Homo sapiens: one gene and its partners. The protein of the gene in region 1 purifies or fractionates together with the protein of each later gene. This does not show direct contact. Each region holds a gene or a part of one and is shown in the gene's direction. Other genes may lie near its edges.

Region 1 (3,500 bases):
GTTAGCTCTGCGAGGTTGAGGCTGCAGTGAGCCATGATTGTGCCACTGTGCTCCAGCCTGGATGACAGCGAGACTCTGGGATTTTTTTTTTGTTTTTTTTTTTGAGACGGAGTCTTGCTCTGTCACCCAGGCTGGAGTGCAGTGGCGCCATCTCGGCCCACTGCAAGCTCCGCCTCCCAGGTTCATGCCATTCTCCTGCCTCCGCCTCCCAAGTAGCTGGGACTACAGGTGCCCGCCACCACACCCGGCTAATTTTTTGTATTTTTAGTAGAGACGGGGTTTCACCTTGTTAGCCAGGATGGTCTTGATCTCCTGACCTTGTGATCCGCCCTCCCTGGCCTCCCAAGGTGCTGGGATTACGGGCATGAGCCACTGCGCCCGGCTGACTGGGAGGTTTGCTGGAGCCCAGGAGTTCAACATTGCTGAGCTATGATCATGCCATTGCACTCCAGCCTGGGCAACAGAGCAAGATCCTGTCTCAAGAAAATATATACTCTTTTTTAAAAAGGAGAAAGGAAAAGTATAAAACTGAGAAGCATTTGTTTTGTTTTGTTGAGACAGGGTCTCACTATGTTGCCCAGGTTGGAGTGCAGTGGCACAAAATCATAGCTCACTGCAGCCTCGCCCTCCTGTGCTCAAGTAATCCTCCCACCTCACCTCAGCCTCCCAAGTAGCTGTGACTACATGTGCATGCCACCATGCCTGGCTAATTTTTTATTTCTGAGATGAGGTCTCACTATGTTGCCACGCAGGTCTTGAACTCCTGGGCTCAAGTGATCCTCCCAACTCAGCCTCCCAAAGTACTGGTATTACAGACATGAGCCACAGCATTTGGCCTGCTTTTGTATTTTTGAGCAAAAAAAGTTGACGAGAGATTGGTTAAAAGCAAGGAGTGTTGCTGCAGAACTAGAAATCCATGGTCTCAAAGTGAGAGGATTGCTTAAGCCCAGGAATTCAACACCAGCATGGGTAACATAGTGAGACCCTGTCTCTCAAAACAAAAAAAGAAAAAGAAAACAAAAATTAGCTGGGCCTGGTGGTGCGTGGCTATAGTCCCAGCTATACAGGAGACTGAAGTAGGAGGATCACTTGAGCCCCGGAGGCTGAGGCCACAGTGAGCAGTGATTGTGCCACTGCACTCCAGCCTGGATGACAGTGAGACCCCCTGTCTCTAATAAAAATAGAAAGAAAGAAATCCGTGGGCTAGGCGTGGTGGCTCACGCCTGTAATCCCAGCACTTTGGGAGGCCGAGGTGGGCGGATCACGAGGTCAGGAGATCGAGACCATCCTCGCTAACACAGCGAAACCCCATCTCTGTGAAAAATACAAAAAATTAGCCAGGCGTGGTGGCAGGTGCCTGTAGTCCCAGCTACTCAGGAGGCTGAGGCAGGAGAATGGCGTGACCCCAGGAGGCGGAGCTTGCAGTGAGCCAAGATCGTGCCACTGCACTCCAGCCTGGGCGACAGAGCGAGACTCCGTCTCAAAAACAAACAAACAAAAAAAAAAAGAAATCTGTGATCTAACATTTAGCTTTATAGGGCCATATAGGGCATATTTTATTTTTTTCAACCAGCGCTAATCAGGCTGATAAATTGTACCAAGAGAACACTTTACAAACCAGCTAAGAATTTAGGCCGGGCGTGGTGGCTCACGCCTGTAATCCCAGCACTTTGGGAGACCGAGGCGGGCAGATCTTCTGAGGTCGGGAGTTTGATACCAGCCTGACCAACATGGAGAAAACCCGTCTCTACTAAAAATACAAAATGCGTAGTGGCGCATGCCTGTAATCCCAGCTACTCGGGAGGCTGAGGCAGGAGAATCGCTTGAGCCTGGGAAGTGGAGGTTGCGGTGAACCGAGATCGCACCATTGCACTCCAGCCTGGGCAACAAGAGTGAAACTCCGTCTCAAAAAAAAAAAAAAAAAAAAAAGAATTATTCATAATAGGAGCCAAAACTGGCTACAGAAGGGCCTGCTCTGCGATCTTTGCAGATGGTATTGTGGAACAGAATGTTAATGTGGTGCAGGGTATAGAGTTAGAGCAGAGATTGCCATTGATCTTGGAGGGTTTGATGGATCGTCTTTCCTTCCTAGGGAAGCACCAGGGCCCCTCTCGCCTGAACAGACACAGATATTTTGCTCAGCAGCTTGCTGACTGTATCTTGTGAGGGTGTGGTAGGCTGTCATTTGCAGTTGCAGTACTCACAGATCACATTACCTAAAGTCTGAGGCCATTTTACTGGTGGCCCAATTGCTGAAAGAACAAGTTTCCAGAGGCCAGTTGAGCAAACAGTGGAGACCGCAGGGGCTGGGTATTCCTTACATTATAAGGCTTTCCCCTGGGTGAACTCTTCAAAGCTGCTCTCAGTGTTTCTTATGGACAGCTATTAATCAACAATGCCTGGATTTTAGGCATCTCAGGAAGGTCCAGATCCCTGGAAGGAATCCATTTGAATGGATTTCTAGCCTCTTTACTTAGGGAAGGTAGAAGACTGGATCTGTATACCCTCGGTTTTATCCTGCCTCAAGTCCCAGTCCCTACTCTGGAAAGTGAAGATGAAGCTGGGTTCACAGCTCCGTCTTTGGAACCCTTGGAGCTAGATGTATTTTGGAATTCTAGCTTAAGAGAAGTCACGTGGGGTCTGGGGAAGCACCTTGTATTTAAATAGATTAATTCTGCACTAAGTAGGACAAAGAAAGATTATAAATGTCCTTACAGGTGAAAACAGCTCCAGCGTGAGTTTTGGCACCACACTGGTAGAAAACACTTGGTGTTCAGACCCTTTTGGACCTGGGGGAATTGCAGAGTAAGGAATCTTGCCCACCTGCCCTTATTGTCTGTGGTGAGGATGAAATGAGATCATTGCAGATAAATGTTCTTAGCACCCTGCAGGGAAAGCACTTGTTTGCTGTTGGCTGCTGCTGCTGTGGTCTTAAGAGATAAAATAGAGACACTGTCAACAAATAAGAGAACGCTTACCCAGGGGGAAGGCACTTCTGTAGGTTTTTGATGTAAACAAGCTGTTAAAGGCATAGGCTTTAATTTTCAGGTCATGAGTTGGCTCTGATGGGAAAGGCAAATACTGCCTCTTATGGTATCTGTCGTAATTTCAGTGCTGAGAGAAAATTATTCAAAAATATGTATTTCTGGCCGGGCGCAGTGGCTCACGCCTGTAATCCCAGCACTTTGGGAGGCCAAGGCGGGCGGATCACAAGGTTAGGAGATCGAGACCATCCTGGCTAACATGGTGAAACCCCATCTCTACTAAAAATACAAAAAAATCAGCCGGACATGGTGGCACGCGCCTGTAGTCCCAGCTACTCAGAAGGCTGAGGCAGGAGAATCGCTTGAACCCGGGAGGTGGAGGTTGCAGTGAGCCGAGATCGTGCCACTGCACTCCAACCTAGTGCGAGACTCCGTCTCAAAAAAATATATATGTATTTCTAACTGTAGAGTTGTTGTTTTTTCTTTTTTTAATGTAGTTTTAAAGCAAGTGTCAGG
Region 2 (3,500 bases), on another chromosome or scaffold:
TTGTCTCACATTGAGTGAAAAAGGATTCCAGCAAATCAGCTTTGTAAATAGTATTGCAACTACAAAAGTAAGTAAGCAAATTATTTGTTTCCAAGTCAGTGGTAGAACAGTACTTCAATAAAAACTACAAAACAAATAACAATATCCACAACCCCCAAAAAACCCAAATCTGTTTTTGTTAAATAAGAATTGACTTATGAAAACAAAAACCTATTTTCTATGAAATTGCTGTATTAAAATTTATTTAAACAATTATTGAGAAATAAATTTATATGACTAGTGTTTGTAGTTGAACATATTTATATTTTATGAAATTTAGAATAACAAATTCCTTTTTCTGTAACTTTTAGCCCCACCTTCCCCAACCTCTGGGGAGAGGAGAGGGGGCTGGTGACTGAGTTAAAAATCAATTATGGCTATGTGATAAAGCTCTGTAAAAACTCCTGAACAATGGAGTTCACAGAACTCCTAGGTTGGTGAATACATTTGAGGTGCCAAGAGGGTGGCATGTCTGGGTAAGGCATGGAGCTTTGTGTACCCTTTCCCCTGTACTATGCCCTATGCATCTCTTCCATTTGGCTATTATTGCTGGATCCTATATAAAAAACTTGTAAATGAAGTAAAGTGTGTTCTTGAGTTCTGTGACCTGTTCCAGCAAATTATCATTCCTGAGGAGTGGGTCATAGGTTCGTTAGAAGTACAGGAGGCCTAGGACTTGTAACTGGCATCTGAAGTGTGGGGAGTCCTGTGGGATTGAGCCCTTAACCAACCCTAAATACTTGTGCTAACTCCAGGTAGTTAGTATCAAAATTGAATTACATTGTTGAACATCCATTTGGTGTCTGGAGAATCAGAGAATTGGTTGCTGGTGTTGAAAGCACCTGAGAATTGGTGTTAGAATTGAAGTGAGGAAAGCAAACAAACAAACAAACAAAAAAAACACAGCGGTTGGTTTATTGGCTCTGTAGCCAAAATGTCTTATTTTTTTAAAATCTCAACTCTCGTTCTGAGACTCTATTACTCTTTTAGAAAATAGGGTTTATAATACAGATAAAGTATTTTGCTACTTTAACAATACAGGATTTCAGATTTCATATATTTTTTTTTCTTTAGGGTGGACGGCACGTGGATTATGTGGTAGATCAAGTTGTTGGTAAACTGATTGAAGTAGTTAAGAAAAAGAACAAAGCTGGTGTATCAGTGAAACCATTTCAAGTAAGGGATGTGTTATATATTGTACATGATGCATACATATGCATTATATATATACTGAATTACTAAATATCAGCTCTGATATTGACTTTTTTGGGTATGTTTTCAACAGGTAAAAAACCATATATGGGTTTTTATTAATTGCCTTATTGAAAATCCAACTTTTGATTCTCAGACTAAGGAAAACATGACTCTGCAGCCCAAAAGTTTTGGGTCTAAATGCCAGCTGTCAGAAAAATTTTTTAAAGCAGTGAGTAAAACTTGTATTTTTTTTATTGTTGTTATTAAGAGTTGATTAGGTAGTTTTCTTGATTTACTTTATTTGTGATTAGTTTCTTTCATCGTATTAACTGTGGGTATAAGCATGCTTGCACTACAAACTAATATGCTTAATTTGATAACTTTAAAGGGTAGACTTTAATGTTTCCTAAAACAATTGTTTTGCCAAGAACTAAAGTAGGGAATTATGTAACTAATTGCATTTTTAGCTTTGTATTGACCATTGTAAAGGTCAGATTTCCCCTAACAGATGTCCAGATCCTTATGCAACTCTTTCATCTTTTCTACTCTCATTTCAACTTGATCTACTGATTCTTATCTTTATACATGTTTAAAAATTGTGGTAACATGTATAACAAAATGTACTATTTTCTACATGTTCTTAAATTGCTTTGCTTTGCACATAATTTTTTTAGGCTACCTTAACTTCTCTAAAATAAGGTGAGAGCACAAATAAATAATGGAGATGAATCAATCACAGCCTCTCCTCTTTGGAATTTTGGTGGGGAAATGCTCTATAACTGCCCTAGAACTAATGTATTTCTCAAATTCCAAAAAGTAGATTATCAGAAACAAAAACAAAAGTTGTTTTTTAGGTTCTAACTTAAGGCCTGTAGAAATAGTACTTTTGGATCTAATCTTAATGAATTCTGAGTACAAATTATGCTATATTAATGCTTTCCCAAATTTCTGTCCTCATAACAATTGTTTCCTTGATGAAGTGATTTGATTTTAAATTTTATACTTTTTCATTTTAGGTGCACTAAGTTTAAATTTGACAACACAGTTCACCTCTTTTGTTTATGTCTTAAACATTCCAGAAAACTGTTTTATACACCTAACATCAAATCACCGAGGATGATAAAAAAACTTTTAGGACTTAGAGTTGGAGATGCTTAACTTTCTTTTCCTTTTTCTGTCTGGGTTAACATCTTGCCACAGATTGATTCACTGCAGAGTACAAACAATATGTAATGTTGAAATCTTTATTACCAAGCTATTTAAAGAATAAAAGTCTATTCATAAGTTACCAAGGTTATCCTAATGTTCCTTTTAGGTTAATACTTTTTGTCATAGTGAATTAAAGACTCACGTTTTGTATTGAAGGATATCAGAAATGTCAACGTCTGGAATTTGCCGGCTAGTAGGTTCATGTGTGGATCTGTTTTCACTGTGTTAATTTTAATAAAATTAATTTGTAACAAGAGCAATGCATATTCCTCATGGAGTTTATTATAATAGAATGTTTCTCATATGTAAAAGTTATCCTTTTTCATGTATTTATATTTTAGCTTTAATTTTACAGTAGTTGAGTAAAAGCTGATTAGCATGTATCATGATGCTTATCACCATTATTGTTTTGCCCTAAAATACCTTAAAATTGCACAGATTCCAGGTCTTGCATTAGGCCCTATACATTTTAGCTAAATGTATGAATTTTCAGCTTGTTTGTATACCATTATTCTTTTATTTTTAGGCCTCTAATTGTGGCATTGTAGAAAGTATCCTGAACTGGGTGAAATTTAAGGCTCAGACTCAGCTGAATAAGAAGTGTTCATCAGTAAAATACAGTAAAATCAAAGGTATTCCCAAACTGGATGATGCTAATGATGCTGGTAAGATTGATATTTTTAAATAAGATTTTGATTTAAGTTTCACTTTTATTTAGTTACAGAATTTTTTTATTTTCTACATATAGTTAGACTATGATTTTCCATTCAGAGTATGATTTTACTTCATTGAAATTATCACATACACAACATATTACTAATTTTCAGGGGATAGGAATTTAATAAAATATACTTAATATTTATACTGAGCAATAATGTAAAATAACTTTTATAGTCTTTCACTGTCAGCATTCTAATGTTAATTTTCTGACTTCATTTTTCTCATCAGTGAAAGTATGAGAAATTTTTACTATGTATAATTTTAAATTTCTCTCAGGTGGTAAACATTCCCTGGAGTGTACACTGATATTAACAGAGGGAGACTCTGCCAAATCACTG
Region 3 (3,500 bases), on another chromosome or scaffold:
CCCAGCCACTCGGGAGGCCGAGGCAGGAGAATCTCTTGAACCTGGAAGGCAGAGGTTGCAATGAGCTGAGATCGCGTCACTGCACTCCAGCCTGGGTGACAGAGTGAGACTCTGTCTCCAAAAAAAAAAAAAAAAAAAAAAAAGCAGCAGCAGCAGCACCTCAGGCATCTTAGAATCAGGGAAAGGCCAGGAGGACAATTGGCCACGTTTGCCAAATTTCCCTTCTGGGTTTATAGGGGAGGTTGGGTATCCCTCAGATTGGGCTGGAGTTTTCAGGGTTTCTGTCCCAAAAGGCACTCCTTGCTCTCCATGGATGCTCACGGGACTTGCTGGTGGCCAGTGTGGCAGAAGAGGACACTGGCATTTCTTTTCCAAGCTCTTTACCTGTCCATCGATGGCATTGGGGCCAACTAGTAGAATGTGCTTCCCACAGAACTTCTTTTCAGGCCTTTCACTGGTCTCCTAGGAAAAAGCCAAACTATTTTGATCTGTCTGGAAGTCTTGATTTTATAATGTCATTACAAAAGGAAAAAGTCTTTGAAGTTCTGTATATGGGTGAGGTATGGGGATTGAGTATATAAAATCCTTGTAAAACATTGTGATTCAGTCACCATTAGGGGTCAGGCACTCAGGCACGTTCATGTTCACACTCTCCACTGCCCCCTGCCCAGATCACACGTGTCTCAGTGCTTTCTCCGCCCCTGCTTGTCAGTGTGTGTTGCCTTACCGTCCTGGGGCGGGAAGCTGCTTTTGGTAGCAGGTGCTGGGCTTGCCCACACAGACCACTGTCAAGACTTCCTCCCTGCCCTTGGCTTCTGCTGAGAATGACCCAGGTCTCAACTGCAAGGTCATAGAGAGAGCAACCTAGCTCCCGACATTGACTCCAAGGAGCAATGGTTTCACTCCCTTGTTAGACCTGGCCACCTTTGGAATGGGGACTCAGCCTGGGATGGGATTTTTTTGTACCTGGTGCCTCAAAGGTGGGTGAGGTGGGAAGTCAAAATGTAGCTCAGTTACTTGCAAGCAGTATGACCCTTCACTTCCTGGGCCTCAGTTTCCTCTACCATCAAACAGGGATAACATTGGCTAGAACCCGTCTGGTGTAAAGCTTTGACAGAGCACATCGTGTCAAATACCATGGACAGAATTGGGGTCCTCCATTGCTTTTTCTCTTGTCCTTTTTTGACAGGCAATATTCAAAGAGTAAGAGCACAGGTCTGAAGTTGGGCTGCCTGATGAATTACCAAATCCTGTGCCCTCCATTTCCACATATGTGAAATTAACTAATAATTATTTCTACCTTACAGGGGTTGTGAGATAAAGTGACTCAGTACATGAAGTGCCATGTTAACCGCCCTTATCATCATCATTATCAGATGCAGAAGGAGTTAGTTTGTTAGTTCAAGTTGACTTTTGGTTTCCCTCTGGCTCCTTAGTCTCAGGGAGAGGCAGTAAACCTCTTGGCTCATGCACCAAGAAAGCCCCAGGCTAATTTCAAGTCAATCACTGTTAAGACAGAAGCTGTAATTGCAGAATAAAAGTGTTAACATTGGATAAGGCTTCAAAGATCCTCCAGTCCAACCCCCCATTTTCCAGATGGAGACGCCGAGGCCCACAAACTGCAGGTGATATGTCTGGGCAAACACTGTGGCTAAGCAGAGCCAAATCCAAGCTTCCTTATCACCTGGAAGTCATGGTCTGCGCATGCTATCTCATGGCATCCTTGCCTGTTTGCTAGGGCTGTTCCTCCACCTTCCTCCCACAAATCACTTACTGTTGGCTTCATTTTTCCGCTTGCAGAAAAAGTTAGAAAACCTCAAGAGCTTAGACCTTTTCAATTGCGAGGTAACCAACCTGAACGACTACCGAGAAAATGTGTTCAAGCTCCTCCCGCAACTCACATATCTCGACGGCTATGACCGGGACGACAAGGAGGCCCCTGACTCGGATGCTGAGGGCTACGTGGAGGGCCTGGATGATGAGGAGGAGGATGAGGATGGTGGGTGACAGGGTGCGGCCCAGGGCTGCAGGGGCCCAGCTGAGGCCTTGGGGCTCGTCCTTGGCTTTGCAGAGGTGGGTGGGCTGGGTGTTGGGAGGCCCCCACCCAGCTACTGAAGGCTGGCTGTCTGTCTGGTAGCTACCACCTTCCAAAGCTATGGAGGGGAGTAGGGCTGTCTGCTTTGTTTTCCATAGTCCCTAATCTGTCTCATTGGTTGACTTCCCTAAAAGAACAAAGCATGAGTCCCATGCTCATGGAAATATCCTGAGATTCTCCAACTGCATAATAACTCCTTTAAAACCATCCAACTGAATCCCCACTTCAATTTTTGTCCCTTTTCCAAAGCCCCCAGGGAGTGGGATTCTACAGTCTTTCTGTAGTGTGACCCGCACTTAGACACTCTCCCAGGGAGGGAGGGAGGGGATAGAGAGAGAAGAGTGTGTGGCCTGAGGACCCCTCTTTCCCATCTAGGTATTCAGTAGTGGAGAGGAGGTCCAGAGCTAGAGGGGTTGTGGGGCCCCCTGGTGGTTGCAGCCTACAGCCCCACACCTAGGGGCACAGGCTCAGGTGCTCAGGAGCCCCAGGTGCTCAGAAGTGGAGGACTGCAGGCCACTTGTTGGGTTCCCTGGCAGTGTGGTGTGTAGTCGAGGCCTACAGGAAGGAAGGAGGGAAAAGAAGGGAGTCCTGTTCCCTCCCCTTCTCCCTTGCCACCAGCACAGTGCAGCTTTCCCATGCATCTTCGTGGCCAGATAAAGTTGAGAATGGAGACACTTGCCTGATTAATTAATTCAGATACAGGATTTTGGTTTTCTTTGTTCAATTGGGAGTGTTTTGCAAGATACTCAGAGACCATGTTTGCCTTGGTGGGGATCTTGTGATATGGCAGAAAGGAGCCAAAACTGGCAGTCCCGGGACCAGGTCCCCTAGGCCCAGCTCAACTAGTGACTCGATGCGTGACCTTGAACAAGTCAGTTCTCTCTGTGCCTCAGATCTCTCACCTTTAACCTGAGGAGTTTGATTTGATCTTGCCGCTTTCCCGGGCCCTGGAACCTGTTGCTGTGCTCTGACAATTTCCTGGTGGTCTCGGTGTGAGAGGCCTCCAGAAGGGGCCTTTCACATGCATAACACTTGTGAGGGGGGCTTATCTTTGGCACAACTTCAGGATGTGTTTAATTATGTCAGCACTGTTTTCATGAGAGTTAGTGTGTTCCATCTTTGGACTTAGGTGGGTGTGGGAGGGTCATGAGCCCCACACTGAAGACGCTACAAGGGGCCTGTGCTGTGTGGGGGGCGGAGCCAGCTCACCACTAGTTCTGTTTCCGTTCCCCATTTCGATTGCACAGAGGAGGAGTATGATGAAGATGCTCAGGTAGTGGAAGACGAGGAGGACGAGGATGAGGAGGAGGAAGGTGAAGAGGAGGACGTGAGTGGAGAGGAGGAGGTAAGGAGGCTGGGCTGGGCAGGGCCACCGTCTGCCCCTTTGAGGCAGTCCCACTGACTG
Region 4 (3,500 bases), on another chromosome or scaffold:
TTTTTAAGGTTCACTTTTTAGAATCAGATTCCACAACTGTGGTTTACATTTAGGCCTTAAAATAACCCTGTTCTAGGGGGTGGGAATGGTTGTCACCCATTCAGTGGATGAGAATGTGGAGGTCCAGCTGGTCAGAAGGTTGTCAGGCCAGTTCCTGTTGCCCAGTTGCTAGGCGATGTGGGCCCGGCCTTCCAAATGTTCCCTCCTGGCTATATACCTCCACCTTCCTGGGGCAATAATTACCCAAGGGAGGACACAGAACGTGAAGATCAAAATTAAGAGCTTCAGTGGCAGGAAGGTGGGGAGGCATTTTGAAAATCTGGCAGTGCTGAAGGTATTTTTCATTTCATTTTTTTCACCGAGGGTCTCCTGTGTGGTGGGCCTTCAAACACCGCAAGTGAGACCTAGTTCTTGCCTGAAAAAGCTACTGTCTAGAACTGTGTTGTCCAATACAGTAGCCACAAGTAGCAATTTAAGTTTAAAACAATTCAAATTAAGTAAAATTAAAAATTCAATTTCTGAGTCAAATTAGCCACATTTCAGGTGCTCAGTAGTCATAAGTTGGTCAGCGTGGCTGTAGATGGTTTCCACCATCACAGAAAGTTCTAGACAGTGCTGATGTAGAGGCAGCTGGTATTCTGTAAACATTCATGTCCCTGTTCCTCTTGATCATGTGGTAATATGTTGAACCACATGAAATTGCCCATTCTGTAGGTCAAAACCAGTTGACTAGTGGCAGTTGATACACTTCACCTGATAAGATCTCACCCTGAGAAAGCATTAGTCCCGCCTCTTTGTGTGCATTGTAAACTGCATTCCAAGAAAAAGGAGTGGGAGGGGGGCCACACAGATAGTGGCCCTTTCCTGGAGAGATTTTTTACCCAATGCCCTCAGCATCAAAATGGTGACTTGTAACAAAGACAGAAAATAAATTGATATTAGGTAGAAAGTGATGGCTTGTAAGGGAAGGTAAATATTTAATTTTAAGTGACAGTGCCTAGGCAAGGAGGCACTCTCACTTAGCATATAGAAAATTAGTTCAGGGGCCTCCTAGGAGACTTTTCTTAGGCAGACAAATTCTGGCCGAGTCTCCTGAAGCAGACAACCAGACACCCCCAAAACCAGACGTGTGTGTCCTTTATGTGCATTCAGTAACATGTGTCTTCCACCTGTCAACAATGGGCAGCAACTTTAACTTATCAAGAACATTTTGTGATTTCTAACTTAGATTTTTTTGGCAAGACTAGAATACCTGCCCAGTCCCGAAACCTTTTCAGTTCCAAAGTATTGGAGTTCCAGTGTTCTTGGGTGGCATAAATTGCTTCCTACACCAGTGACTATTTACACAGCTCTGTTATTCTCCATATAACTTTTTTTTCTTTTTCTTTTTTCTCTTTTTTTTTGAGACAAAGTTTCGCTCTTGTTGCCCAGGCTGGAGTCCAATGGCGTGATCTTGGTTTACTGCAACTTCTACCTCCCGGGTTCAAGTGATTCTTCTGCCTCAGCCTCCCAAGTAGCTGGGATTACAGGCATGCGCCACCACACCCGGCTAATTTTGTATTTTTAGTAGAGACGGGGTTTCACCATGTTAGTCAGGCTGGTCTAGAAGTCCTGACCTCAGGTGATCTGCCCTCCTCGGCCTCCCAAAGTGCTAGGATTATAGGCATGAGCCACCGTGCCCGGCCTCCATATAACTTCGAAAGGATCATTGGGCAGTACTGGGGAATAATTTTTGAATTCTTGGTTGTACTTGTGGGCTCATCTTAGTATTAGTACTCTGTAAAGAATAATATAAAACCAAAGTTTAACTTTAAAGGAAGAAGCTGAATGATGGACAGCTACTTGATCTCTTTCTGGTCAGAAAGGAGGCCCACTAAGACTACTGGAAGTTACAGACTATTTATAGTGATAATGAATATCATCTGCTGACTCAAAAGTTGGAATAAAAGACCATCTTGAATTCAAATCTTTAATTCTCTATCCTGGGCAAGGTATAAGCAAACAAGGTCTGTTAGGGTATAAGCAAACAAGGTCTGTTAGGCTGTCTTGAGAGGAATTCCAAACTGGTGCCCTGTGTGAGCTGAACTTGGCCTTCACATGGAATTTGTTTCACTGACCTCATGTTATTAAGCAATTGAGTCACCTTTTAAAAGTGGAATTTTTTTTTTTTTTTTCACTAAAATCTAGATTTTTTGGGCTGGGCACAGTGGCTAATCCCTGTAATCCCAGCACTTTGGGAGGCCAAGGCGGGTGGATCGCTTGAGCCCAGGAGTTTGAGACCAGCCTGGGCAACATGGCAAAACCCCATCTCTATAAAGAATGCAAAAACTAGCCAGGCATGGTGGCATGTGCCTGTAGTCCTGGCTACTCAGGTGGCTGAAGCAGGAGAATCATTTGAACCTGGAAGGTGGAGGTTGCAGTGAGCCAAGATCATACTACACTCCAGCCTAGGCGACAGAGTGAGACTCTGTCTCATAATAAAAAACAAAAACAAAATCTAGATTTTTGGGTTCTCTGGGGGAAAATGGGAATTTCTGGCTACACTAGGTTGACTTTCTTGTGTGGCAGCCGTGGACTGTGTTTGTCCTCTCTAAGCTGGGCCTGTGCTCTCAGTGCCCAGCATCCTACCCCAATATATGTTATGTGCTTGGGTATTGGCAGTCCCTCAGGGTGCTGGGGGCTGTCCGGTGTGACCGGACTAGTCATCAGCTTGTCCCACGGAGCTGCTGTGTGGAGCAGTGGGAGAAGCACTGGTTGGGTGTTCTGATCCCTGGAGTGAGTGAGTGACTTTGGACATGACTTCTCCTCCCTGGGCTTCAGTTTTCTCCCTCCTATAAAATGAAACTAGGCCAGCTAGCTCCACCTTTCAGGCCACAAACCTCGGTTTATCCTTAACTCCTCGCCGTCTCATACCTGTACCCTGTACGCAGCAGGTCCCATCAGCTCTACCTTCCAGACAGAGCCAGTGTGACCATTCTCACCACTTCTGCCTTCTCCCTGGTCCAAACAGCTCTTACCTTTTGATTTTTTATTTCTGAGAGGGTCTTGTTCTATCACCCAGGCTGGAGTACAGTGGCGCAATCACTGCTCACTGCAGTTACAACATTGCAGGCTCAGTTAATCCTCCTGCCTCAGCCTCCTGGGTAGCTGGTACCACAAGTGCATGCTACCACACCCAGTGAATTTTTAGGTTTTTTTGTAGAAATGGTGTCTTGCCACGTTGCCCAGGCTAGTCTTGAACTCCTGGGCTAAAGGAGTCCTCCTGCCTTGGCCACCCAAAGTGCCAGGATTGTAGGCGTGAGCCAGCATGCCCAGCCTGCTCTCACCTCTGCCCCGGGTTATTTCTCTAGCCTCTGGTGGGCTCCCTGCCTTTGCCTATACCCCCTGCCTTCTAGTCTGTTGCCAGAGCAGACCATGTCACTCCTCTGTTCAAGACCCTCCTTGGTCAAGGTCTCCAGTGGCCTCTCAGGGCACTTTCGCTCTAGCTTCACTCCTACCAT
Region 5 (3,500 bases), on another chromosome or scaffold:
GGTCGTTTAGAAAATGTTGGTTCAGTGAGTTATGCAAATCTAAACGTTGACCTTTCAGATGCCATTATACGGTATTTAAAAAATCACATTTGTTAATATCACCACCTATTTCATTTTAAAAAGGAGTTTAAGTATTAGGAAACTATCAAACTCAAGGTAATGGAAACAAGTTTTCAACTTGTTTTCACTTGACAGCTTGAATTTTAACATTGGCAGCAAATATTGTCAGCTGTTTCCTTGAAGTGACAGACTCACTTATTTCATATTTGAGAAAATTTCTGCCAAATTCCCAAGACTGAATAACCAAAATTTGTCTATTATTTTATTTACTGCCATGTACTCACATTTAAAACAAACAAACAATTATTTTTATTTAAGAATGTCCTGATGGTTGGGTTCAGTGGCTCACGCCTATAGTCCCACCGCTTTGGGAGGCCAAGACAAGAGGATCTCTTCAGCCCAGAAATTCAAGACCAGCTTCGTCAACATAGTGAGACTCCATCTCTACTAAATAAATAAATAAAATAAATAAATAAATAAATAATAGTCAGGCATGGTAGCATGCACCTGTGGTTCTAGCTGCTAAGGAGACTGAGGTGTGGGGATCACTTGAGCCCAGGAGGTCAAGACCAGCCTGGGCAACTTAGTGAGACCCCATCTCTGTAAAAAGTAAAAAATTAGACAGGTATAGTGGCTCGTGCCTGTAGTCCCAGCCACTCAGGATCAGTTGAGCTTAGGAGGTTGAGGCTACAGTGAGCCATGACTGTGCCACTGCACTCCAGCCTGGGCAAAAAGACCTTGTCTAGAGAGAGAGAGAGCAGGGGGTGGGGTGGGGGGAGAGAGGAGAGAGAAAGGAAGGAAGGAAAGAAGGGAGGGAGAGGAGAGAGAAAGGAAGGAGGAAAGAAGGGAGGGATGGAAGAAGGGAGGGAGGAAGGAAGGAGGGAAGGTTTCTAGTACATTGTGGTAACATTGCCTTGATTCAGACTGCAAGCAGTTTTACCCACCATTGCTTTGTGTCATAAGTACAAATGTCAACACAGCCAGATGGGGTGGCTCACGCCTGTAATCCCAGCACTTTGAGAGGCCAAGGTGGGCGATCACCTGAGGTCGGGAGTTTGAGACTAGCCTGGCCAACATGGTGAAACCCTGTCTCTACTAAAAATACAAAAATTAGCTGGGCATGGTGGCACATAACTGTGGTCCCAGCTACTTGGGGGAGGCTGAGGCAAGAGAATCGCTTGAACCCAGGAGGCAGAGGTTGCAGTGAGCCAAGATCATGCCACTGTATTGCAGCCTGGGCAACAGAGTGAGACTGTCTCAAAAGAAAAAAAATTCAACACAGTGAAATACTCTTCAAATTATGATTAAAATACTTTTGTCTTTGTGGACCCCTCCTTCTCCCAGGATCTGCACCTTTGAGAAACATTGCTACAGTCCATTTTCAGGAAGGCTGCTTTGTGCCTTCTAATGAGCATCTCTGTACTTGCAGTCTTAGGACGTTATTGTAGCCTAGTAGAGGGGTATGTTCATTTTCAGATTGGCCCCCAAAAGGAAAAATTTATTCTCAGAAGTGTTTACCCTAGGGTCATATTTGACCTCCAAAGAATCCCATTTTCTGTTCTGATTTTTTAAACTTTGATTTACACTTTTTTTTTTTTTTTTTTTTTTGAGACAGAGTCTCGCCCTGTCACCCAGGCTGTAGTACAGTGGCGTGATCTTGGCTCACTGCAACCTCTGCCTCCCAGGTTCAAGCGATTCTCTTGCCTCAGCCTCCTGAGTAGCTGGGATTACAGGTGCACGCCACCACGCCTGGCTAACTTTTTTGTTTTTTGTTAGTAGAGATGGGGTTTCACCATGTTGGTCAGGCTGGTCTCGAACTCCTGACCTCAGGTTATCCACCTGCCTCAGCCTCCCAAAGTGCTGGGATTATAGCCATGAGCCACCGCACCTGGCCCTGATTTATACATAATTTTATAGGCACATACCTATTTATTGGATAAAGTGAAGCATACCTTATTGTGATTCTAACTAACTAGGTAAGCCAAGCCTGGCCTTATTAGAAAGATGTTTACTTCCTACGTTCACAAAAGCTTAAATGTCTAGCAGATGCCCTCCAAACTGGACTGTAATTTAGTTTATTCGGCATGTCTTAATCACCATAGCTTTTCACAACCCTTTCCCTGGCCTTTTGATTTTGACTTTGGGCAGGTCCTATCTGTTTCTGTGATGCAGTGTAATGTCCTTAGGTTTGGGGGCCAGATAGCCCTGGATTTGAATCTCTGCTGTACACTTTGACCTCTCTGAGCCTTGGTTTTCCTGTCAGTAAAATGGACATGATAATGAAGCCTACCTTGTTTTGTGGCTTCAATGAAACAATGCATCAAGTCTGGCATATAAAAAAATGTTCCTGGCTGGGCGCGGTGGCTCACGCCTGTAATCCCAGTACTTTGGAAGGCCGAGGCAGGCAGATCACCTGAGATCAGAAGTTCGAGACCAGCCTGACCAACATGGAGAAACCCTGTCTCTACTAAAAAAATGCAAAATTAGCTGGGTGTGATGGTGCATGCCTGTAATCCCAGCCACTTGGGGGGCTGAGGCAGGAGAATCGCTTGAATCTGGGAGGCAGAGGTTGTGGTGAGCCGAGATTGCGCCATTGCACTCCAGCCTGGGCAACAAGAGCGAAACTCCGTCTCAAAAAAAAAAAAAGTTCCTACAGCCAGGCGCGGTGGCTCATGCCTGACTTTGGGAGGCTGAGATGGGTGGATCACGAGGTCAGGAGTTCAAGACCAGCCTGGCCAAGATGGTGAAATCCTGTCTCTACTAAAAATACAAAAATTAGCCAGGTGTGGTGGCGGGTGCCTGTAATCCCAGATACTCGGGAGGCTGAGGCAGAGAATTGCTTGAACCTGGGAGGCGGAGGTTGCAGTGAGCTGAGATTGCACCACCGCACTCTAGCCTGGGCCAGTGAGTGAGACTCTGTCTCAAAAAAAAAAAAAAAGTTCCTATATAGTAGCTGTTGTTATCATTATCTGCAAATAGGCAGACTTATTCCACACAGTTGACAGAAGAGGGAAGCGTGCTGATGAAGCTCTCTAGCAGATGATAACTTTTGTAATTAGCACACTCTTTGCTTAAGAGAAAATCCAATGTTTGACATTTTTTATTCCATGAAGGTACATTGGCAGTGTGTGTTTTCTGCCTATGAAAATGTTCGCCTTTCTGTTAAAGTTGAATTTTCCCCAGTACTTTAAAAATATGAAATGGTTTAGGAAAAAAAATTCTATTTCATTTTCAAGGAACATAATAATTAGACAAAAGTTCAGCACATTGATATAATTAGAAAGGATTTGGAAGTTGTTCATTTGCTTTTCACTGCTCCCCTAGAGCAAATATTCAACATTTCCCTTGTTTATACTGTTCATTTGCTTAGCAAACTTTCTCAAATAATTAATAATGCCAAGATGATATTTAGCCTCACTTGTCCAAATAATCCCAGACTG
Region 6 (3,500 bases), on another chromosome or scaffold:
CAATATGTTAGTAGTGAGCTAGTACCTTCCAGAATTCCAGGTTCTAGAGAGTGGTTGTGGCAGAGTAATTGTGTATATCTAGGGCTGAGCAAGAACCAAAAACAGAAGGGGTGTGAGGTAGCCTCAGTCTCAGTGTTGGTCTGTCCAGTGTGACTTACTGAGTGCTATGATGACCATTCCAATCTCCCTTCTCACCTCTGTTTCCTCTTCACACACTGGCCTTCTCATGATTCCTGACTGTACTAGACATCCTCTTTCTGCCTGAGAATTTTGTTTTCTTTCTTTCTTTCTTTCTTTTTTGAGACAGGGTCTTGCTCTGTCACCAAGGCTAGAGTGCAGTGGTGTGTCATAGCTCACTGCAGCCTTGACCTCCTGGGCTCAAGCGATCCTCGCACCTCAGCCTCCTAAGTAGCTGGGACCACAGGGACATGCCACCATGCCTGGCTAATTTTTTAATTTTTTGGAGAGACAGGGTCTCACTGTGTTGCCCAGGCTTGTCTTGAACTCCTGGGCTCAAGCGATCCTCCTGCTTCAGCCTCCGAAAGTGTTGAGATTATAGGCATGAGCTACCGTTTCAGTGTTCTCTCTGCCTGGGTCACTTCTACGTTTTTCCCGGCTGGCTTCTTCTCATCCATTTTTTTTTTTTGAGACGGAGTCTCGCTCTGTCACCCAGGCTAGAGTGCAGTGGCGCAATCTCGGCTCACTGCAAGCTCCGCCTCCCAGGTTCATGCCATTCTCCTGCCTCAGCCTCCTGAGTAGCTGGGACTACAGGCGCCCACCACCACACCCGGCTAATTTTTTTGTATTTTTTTAGTAGAGACGGGGTTTCACCGTGTTAGCCAGATTGGTCTTGATCTTCTGACCTAGTGATCCACCTGCCTCAGCCTCCCAAAGTGCTGGGATTACAGGCGTGAGCCACCCCGTGCGCCCAGCCCTTCTCAACCTTTAAGTGTTTGCTTACGGGACACTTCCTCCAGAAAGCCTTCCCTGGCCTCCCAGTCTAAAATAGGTCTCCTGTGTTCTGTCTCATGGAATTAGTTTCTTCTCCTTTCCAACATACAGCCCAGTTTGTAATTATGTATTTATTTGTGTTTTGATGTGTTTGATGAACGTCTTCTCCAACTAGAAGTAAACCATGTTTATTAAGTAACTGCATAATCAGTGCGTGGCTCATTGTAGATGCACATTAAATATTTGGCAAAGGAATGAATGAAAGTCCACCATGATTCTACTGATTTCTTTCGTGGCCTTCTCTGTAACTGTACTGATCGGTTTTGGTTGTGGTTGTTAGATTGTTGCCTGCCCTGATGTGCTTCCTCGGAAGATGGCAACACCTGGAGCAGTGCAGGAGTCCTGCAGCCCCCATCCCCTGACCGTGGACACCCAGCCTGAGCAAGCGCCACAGAAGCCTCGTCTCCTGGAGGAAAATGGTGAGGCTCAGTGATTCAGTGGAACTGATATAGCTCAAGAGTGGGTGCCTTGGCCATGTGGCAGGCACTATCTGCGGGAGAGAGACTCTAGGCTGAGCAGCCTCTCTACAGCCTGCAGGGTCTAGAAGCAGGGAAAGGCCAGGGACCTGGAGTTGAGTCCCTGGTGTTCAATGAAAGCCATTCCTAGAATGGCTAGGAATTACACCAGCTTCTTTTTTTTTCTTTTATTTATTTATTTATTTATTATTATTATACTTTAAGTTGTAGGGTACATGTGCACAATGTGCAGGTTAGTTACATATGTATACATGTGCCATGCTTGTGTGCTGCACCCACTAACTCGTCATCTAGCATTAGGTATATCTCCCAATGCTATCCCTCCCCCCTCCCCCCACCCCACAACAGTCCCCAGAGTGTGATGTTCCCCTTCCTGTGTCCATGTGTTCTCATTGTTCAGTTCCCACCTATGAGTGAGAATATGCGGTGTTTGGTTTTTTGTTCTTGCGATAGTTTACTGAAAATGATGGTTTCCAATTTCATCCATGTCCCTACAAAGGACATGAACTCATCATTTTTTATGGCTGCACAGTATTCCATGGTGTACTGCCACATTTTCTTAATCCAGTCTATCATTGTTGGACATTTGGGAAAGACACATGCACACGTATGTTTATTGCTGAATTACACCAGTTTCATTAAAAACCTACAACGCAAATGATGACAGCTCTGGGTACAGGGACTGTTAAAAGATCTACACGTCTTTTACAAAAGTATCACAGATTTTTGCCTTTCTGTCATAGATTGTCTTTCTTTTATTTTTGAGACAGAGTCTCACCCTGTTGCCTGGGATGGAGGGCAGTGGTGCGATCTTGGCTCACTGCAGCCTCTGCCTCCCAGGTTCAAGTGATACCTCCACCTCAGCCTCCTGAGTAGCTGGGACTACAGGTGCCTGCCACCATGCCCAGCTAATTTTTGGATTTTTAGTAAAGATGGGGTTTCACCATGTTAGCCAAGCTAGTCTTGAACTCCTGGCCTCAAGTGATCACCTACCTTGTCCTGCCAAAGTGCTGGCATTAGAGGTGTGAGCCACTGCGCTCAGCCTCCCTCATAGATTTTCTTGTCTTAATGCTTATGTTAAAAAAACAAAAAAACAAGGCCGGGCTCAGTGGCTCACACTTGTAATCCCTGCACTTTGGGAGGCAAAGGTGGGTGGATCACCTGAGGTCAGGAGTTCAAGACCAGCCTGGCCAACATGATGAAACCCCGTCATGATGAAACACCGTCTCTACTAAAAATACAAAAAATTAGCTGGGCATGGTGGTGCGTGCCTGTAATCCCAGCTACTCAGGAGGCTGAGGCATGAGAATCGTTTGAACCCAGGAGGCAAAGGTTGCAGTGAGCTGAGACCGTGGCACTGGACTCCAGCCTGGGCAACAAGAGCAAAACTCCGTCTCAAAAAAGAAAAGAATACTGTCACACAATGCTTTTAGCAAATTTAGTCCTTCTAGCAAAATGTGATGGTCCAGAATCTCTTATTATCTTATTATTACAAAATACTGTGTGATGAAGTCCTTGCTGTTGAATGACTCACAAGATAAGAATGCCATTTCCCTTTTTGAAATTAGAAATACATTGTTCATCATTGATTCTTGAGTTTAAGAAAATTTATCTAGGATGTTATCATTTGAAACTCATTCTAGAATCTCTGTTACACTTTCAGTTTCATGATTCTCATTAGAGAGTACAGCTGTCTTTCTGTGTCATCTACTGAGTTGCCTAATAATAGTCATCCTCTTCAAATTTTCCTCTCTTTGCCAATGTGGGCAGCAAATGAAAAATTTGGAATTCTCAACCGTGTTCAATGAAAGCTAAACAAAGGTGTTAGCGATCTTTTTGGTATAAAAGAAAGTAGCTTCATGCCTGTAATTCCAGCATTTTTGGAGGCCAAAGCAGGTGGATCTCTTGAGCCCAGGAGTTTGATACCATCCTGGGCAATGTGGCGAAAACTCACCTCTACAAAAAATACAAAAATTGGCCGTGTGCAGTGGCTCATGCCTGTAATCCCAGCAC
Region 7 (3,500 bases), on another chromosome or scaffold:
TGGCTGAGATCAAGTGCAGAAAGCATGGAGCATTTTATGTTGTTACTTTATTTCTATACTGTTTGGATTTAGAGGAAAATGAAGTAAAATTAGTTCTCTTTTTTTTTTTTTTTTTTGACAAAGGCTCATCCTGTTGCTTCTCCTGCCTCAGCCTCCTGAGTAGCTGGGACTACAGGCATGCACCACCACACCTGGCTAATTTTTGTATTTTCAGTAGAGATGGGTTTTCACCACGTTGGCCAGGCTGGTCTTGAACTCCTGACCTCAGGTTATCCACCCGCCTTGGCCTCCCAAAGTGTTGGGATTACAGGCGTGAGCCACCACACCCAGCTACTTATTCTTTATAATCTTTCATTTCAGAGCTCTAAATCATCCCTTTTAGTGAACTCAAAGATTTTAAAACCCCTTGAAACCAGTGTCTTGGGAATGATGAATGAATCTCTTTATTTGTTTTATTTTTCATGTACCAGTATTTTTATTTTCATGAAACTTTTATTTAAAAGTTGGGTTAGTATTTACTTCTTACTAAAATCTGAGTTAAATGACATTTGTGAAAGTGCTCCACACCCAAAAAAACACCCAATAAATGTTTCCTTCTAATGTATTCAATGCCTATACCCCCAAATATCTTACAAGTAAGATTTTTGTATAATCTGTATCATATCTAATTTTAAATTATGGTAAAAATATTAACATGCCATCTACCTTCTTAAAATTTTAAGTGTACAGTGTTATTAACTGTAAGCACAAGGTTGTACAGCAGATCTCTAGAACTTTCTTCTCCATTTGTTTTTTTCTTACCTCTCAAAAACTGTAAATAGTGTATTTTTTCGAGATAAGTTGGGGAATATTATTTCCCCAACTTTGTTGATAACCAAAAGAAGTTAAATTTGTTTCATGTAATTAATCAGTGAGTGAGCTGCATTCAAAAGGGAAGTAATGGGCCGGGTGCGGTGGCTCACACCTGTAATCCCAGCACTTTGGGAGGCCAAGACGGGCGGATCACGAGGTCAGGAGATCGAGACCATCCTGGCTAACATGGTGAAACCCCGTCTCTACTAAAAATACAAAAAATTAGCCGGGCATGGTGGCAGGCACCTGTAGTCCCAGCTACTTGGGAGGCTGAGGCAGGAGAATGGCGTGAACGTGGGAGGCAGAGCTTGCAGTGAGCTGAGATCGTGCCACTGCACTCCAGCCTGGGTGACACAGTGAGACTCTGTCTCAAAAAAATAAAAAAGGGAAGTAATGATCAACTGTGTCCAAGTTCTACTTTAAGTGTGTGTAATATTCTCTGTAGACTTTTCCCCACAGACTTGTTTGAGATCTTCATTGACATAGGGCATTATGTACGTGATATCAGTGCTTATGAAGAATTGGTATCCAAGCTGAATTTATTAGTGGTAAGTCCTGAGTTTTCAATATTTTGGCAGGCTGCTATGTAGTCAGGATGTAATTTATCACAGAAACCCATTTCCTTTTTATATTTTGATTAGGAGGATGAACTGAAGCAAATTGCTGAAAATATTGAAAGCATTAATCAGAACAAAGCTCCTTTGAAATATATAGGCAACTATGCAATTTTGGATCATCTTGGAAGTGGAGCTTTTGGCTGTGTTTACAAGGTGACTTTCCCCTTGGGGAACATTTCTGATACTCCCAACCAAACCGGATGTCACACTTGCACACCGATATTCAATTGAATTAGAACTCTTGTCATTGAAAAATAGCAAACAGATATGAAAATTAGAATGATTGTTTTTGTCCAACAGAGATAGCCACACTAATATTGTTTTAGCTGTAAGCTCTAGAAATTGGCCACTGACTTTTTAAGACAAAAGGCATTATTAATCTCTCACAAAGGTATTCAAAATAGTTTCTCCCAATGCATGATGCAATCTCTAAATTAAAAAATGCTACTAAGTATTGCAGACTGACCCAGGGGATACCAGTGTTTTGATGTTTTGAGCTGAGCTTAATGTAAATACAGCTGGAACTTTAAATGCTCTGTGACTTATTTATATGACTTAGTTACTCATGTGACTTTGTTAGTCTATCTCTTTCTTCCTCTTTCTCTCTTCTCCTTCTTTACCCTGTTCCTTTTGTTGTTGTTGTGTTTTTCTTTATTTTAGGTTAGAAAGCATAGTGGTCAAAATCTTTTAGCAATGAAAGAGGTCAATTTACATAACCCAGCATTTGGAAAGGATAAGAAAGATCGAGACAGCAGCGTAAGGAATATTGTTTCTGAATTAACAATAATTAAAGAGCAGGTAAATGTTTTCCTTGTTTCTGAAGATGTTTTTCTTAAATACATGTCATTGCAAGAAAGTAGAGTTGTGGTGCTCTTGTCCATGCTGCTTATGAACTAGTTCCATGTGAAATAATTGACACTGAAGCAGTGATATTTTTGCCAGCTTTTTTCCTAAGGCTTGACATTGAAGCATAAAACACTGTCTGGAGTTTATATCAGGGTCATGGATGCAAAACAATCGGATTTACAGTACAGAATGCATCATATATGAGAAATCCTTTTCTTTTCATTGTGAGCATATCTATTCTTTTCTCCTTATATTTTAGGATATTTGGTTACTTAGTTACATACATAGAAATATGACTAAGAGTTTCTTGACTTTTGCCAAATGGAACCAAGCTGTTAACATTCCTCAAATATGACTTTATTAGATCTAAAATGTAGATTTTCAAGTTGGGTTATTATGTATTGGCATGAGCAGAATACTCTGATATAATGTAACAGCTCAATTAACTCTCATTATGAAAGTTTGTTTGAGGAGGAAGAATAAACATTTCAAAGAGAAATGGAATTTCTTTGTGTGATCCAAGAACACATTGGTTTCTTTTTCAGCCTTCCTTATTTGCACATTCATCACGAATACTGTTCATTTATAATTCCTGTGGTGCACTATCAGCTTTGCTGCTTTTGTCCTCCACTGGTCACATTTGCATAGCATCTGTGTTGGGATGTAACAAATTCCATAAACAAGGAGACCTTTGTTCATAAAAATCGATAGTTCTACTCCAGTGTGTACATTATAGTAAATATTATCATTAATTGTTTATTTTATAGTTGATTTTATATACTAATAGACTAGACTTTAAAAAGTTTGTTCATGTGTAGTTTGTTCATGTGTTTGTATGGTCATCTAGCCTTCCACAGTGTGCTCTTTCATTGTAGCACAAGGCTAGAACAGGGCTTTTGACCTAAGCCAGTCCAGTGTTTTCATCTGGACCCAAATTTGGTTTTAGTCCTTGTGGGTGAGCCAGGTCCAGAATATGGTTCTGGTTGGTTACCTGGTCACATATTGCTTACGATCTGCTGGCCACTTGCTAGTTGATGCAGTAGATTATTTGTTTTAGCACATTTCCTAAGAAAAGAAACTGTCAAACTAGGGTCAGATAGGAAGCATATGCTTGGGCTTTGAGGTAACTCAAAATTGCCCTCTCACTAGAGGATCAAACTGATGGAAAGGATGATAACATTGAGT

What was found.
Region 2: the proteins of AKAP8L (region 1) and TOP2B purify together in Homo sapiens (tandem affinity purification; one large-scale study listed by IntAct). This does not show direct contact.
Region 3: the proteins of AKAP8L (region 1) and ANP32A purify together in Homo sapiens (tandem affinity purification; one large-scale study listed by IntAct). This does not show direct contact.
Region 4: the proteins of AKAP8L (region 1) and RRBP1 purify together in Homo sapiens (tandem affinity purification; one large-scale study listed by IntAct). This does not show direct contact.
Region 5: the proteins of AKAP8L (region 1) and KATNIP purify together in Homo sapiens (tandem affinity purification; one large-scale study listed by IntAct). This does not show direct contact.
Region 6: the proteins of AKAP8L (region 1) and ZKSCAN5 purify together in Homo sapiens (co-immunoprecipitation; one large-scale study listed by IntAct). This does not show direct contact.
Region 7: the proteins of AKAP8L (region 1) and NEK10 purify together in Homo sapiens (co-immunoprecipitation; one large-scale study listed by IntAct). This does not show direct contact.

What each region holds. Positions count from the first base shown.
Region 1 is NC_000019.10:15,412,489-15,415,988, reverse strand, and holds part of AKAP8L (A-kinase anchor protein 8-like), read left to right. Parts: intron 1-3,500. UniProt on the Homo sapiens protein: Could play a role in constitutive transport element (CTE)-mediated gene expression by association with DHX9. Increases CTE-dependent nuclear unspliced mRNA export.
Region 2 is NC_000003.12:25,630,408-25,633,907, reverse strand, and holds part of TOP2B (DNA topoisomerase 2-beta), read left to right. Parts: coding exon 1-67; intron 68-1,113; coding exon 1,114-1,215; intron 1,216-1,324; coding exon 1,325-1,462; intron 1,463-2,968; coding exon 2,969-3,107; intron 3,108-3,438; coding exon 3,439-3,500. UniProt on the Homo sapiens protein: Key decatenating enzyme that alters DNA topology by binding to two double-stranded DNA molecules, generating a double-stranded break in one of the strands, passing the intact strand through the broken strand, and religating the broken strand.
Region 3 is NC_000015.10:68,782,896-68,786,395, reverse strand, and holds part of ANP32A (acidic leucine-rich nuclear phosphoprotein 32 family member A), read left to right. Parts: intron 1-1,800; coding exon 1,801-1,999; intron 2,000-3,342; coding exon 3,343-3,440; intron 3,441-3,500. UniProt on the Homo sapiens protein: Multifunctional protein that is involved in the regulation of many processes including tumor suppression, apoptosis, cell cycle progression or transcription. Promotes apoptosis by favouring the activation of caspase-9/CASP9 and allowing apoptosome formation.
Region 4 is NC_000020.11:17,675,743-17,679,242, reverse strand, and holds part of RRBP1 (ribosome-binding protein 1), read left to right. Parts: intron 1-3,500. UniProt on the Homo sapiens protein: Acts as a ribosome receptor and mediates interaction between the ribosome and the endoplasmic reticulum membrane.
Region 5 is NC_000016.10:27,553,144-27,556,643, forward strand, and holds part of KATNIP (katanin-interacting protein), read left to right. Parts: intron 1-470; exon of another isoform or gene 471-490; intron 491-3,500. UniProt on the Homo sapiens protein: May influence the stability of microtubules (MT), possibly through interaction with the MT-severing katanin complex.
Region 6 is NC_000007.14:99,511,162-99,514,661, forward strand, and holds part of ZKSCAN5 (zinc finger protein with KRAB and SCAN domains 5), read left to right. Parts: intron 1-1,291; coding exon 1,292-1,430; intron 1,431-3,500. UniProt on the Homo sapiens protein: May be involved in transcriptional regulation.
Region 7 is NC_000003.12:27,289,384-27,292,883, reverse strand, and holds part of NEK10 (serine/threonine-protein kinase Nek10), read left to right. Parts: intron 1-1,297; coding exon 1,298-1,400; intron 1,401-1,493; coding exon 1,494-1,622; intron 1,623-2,129; coding exon 2,130-2,267; intron 2,268-3,500. UniProt on the Homo sapiens protein: Plays a role in the cellular response to UV irradiation. Mediates G2/M cell cycle arrest, MEK autoactivation and ERK1/2-signaling pathway activation in response to UV irradiation.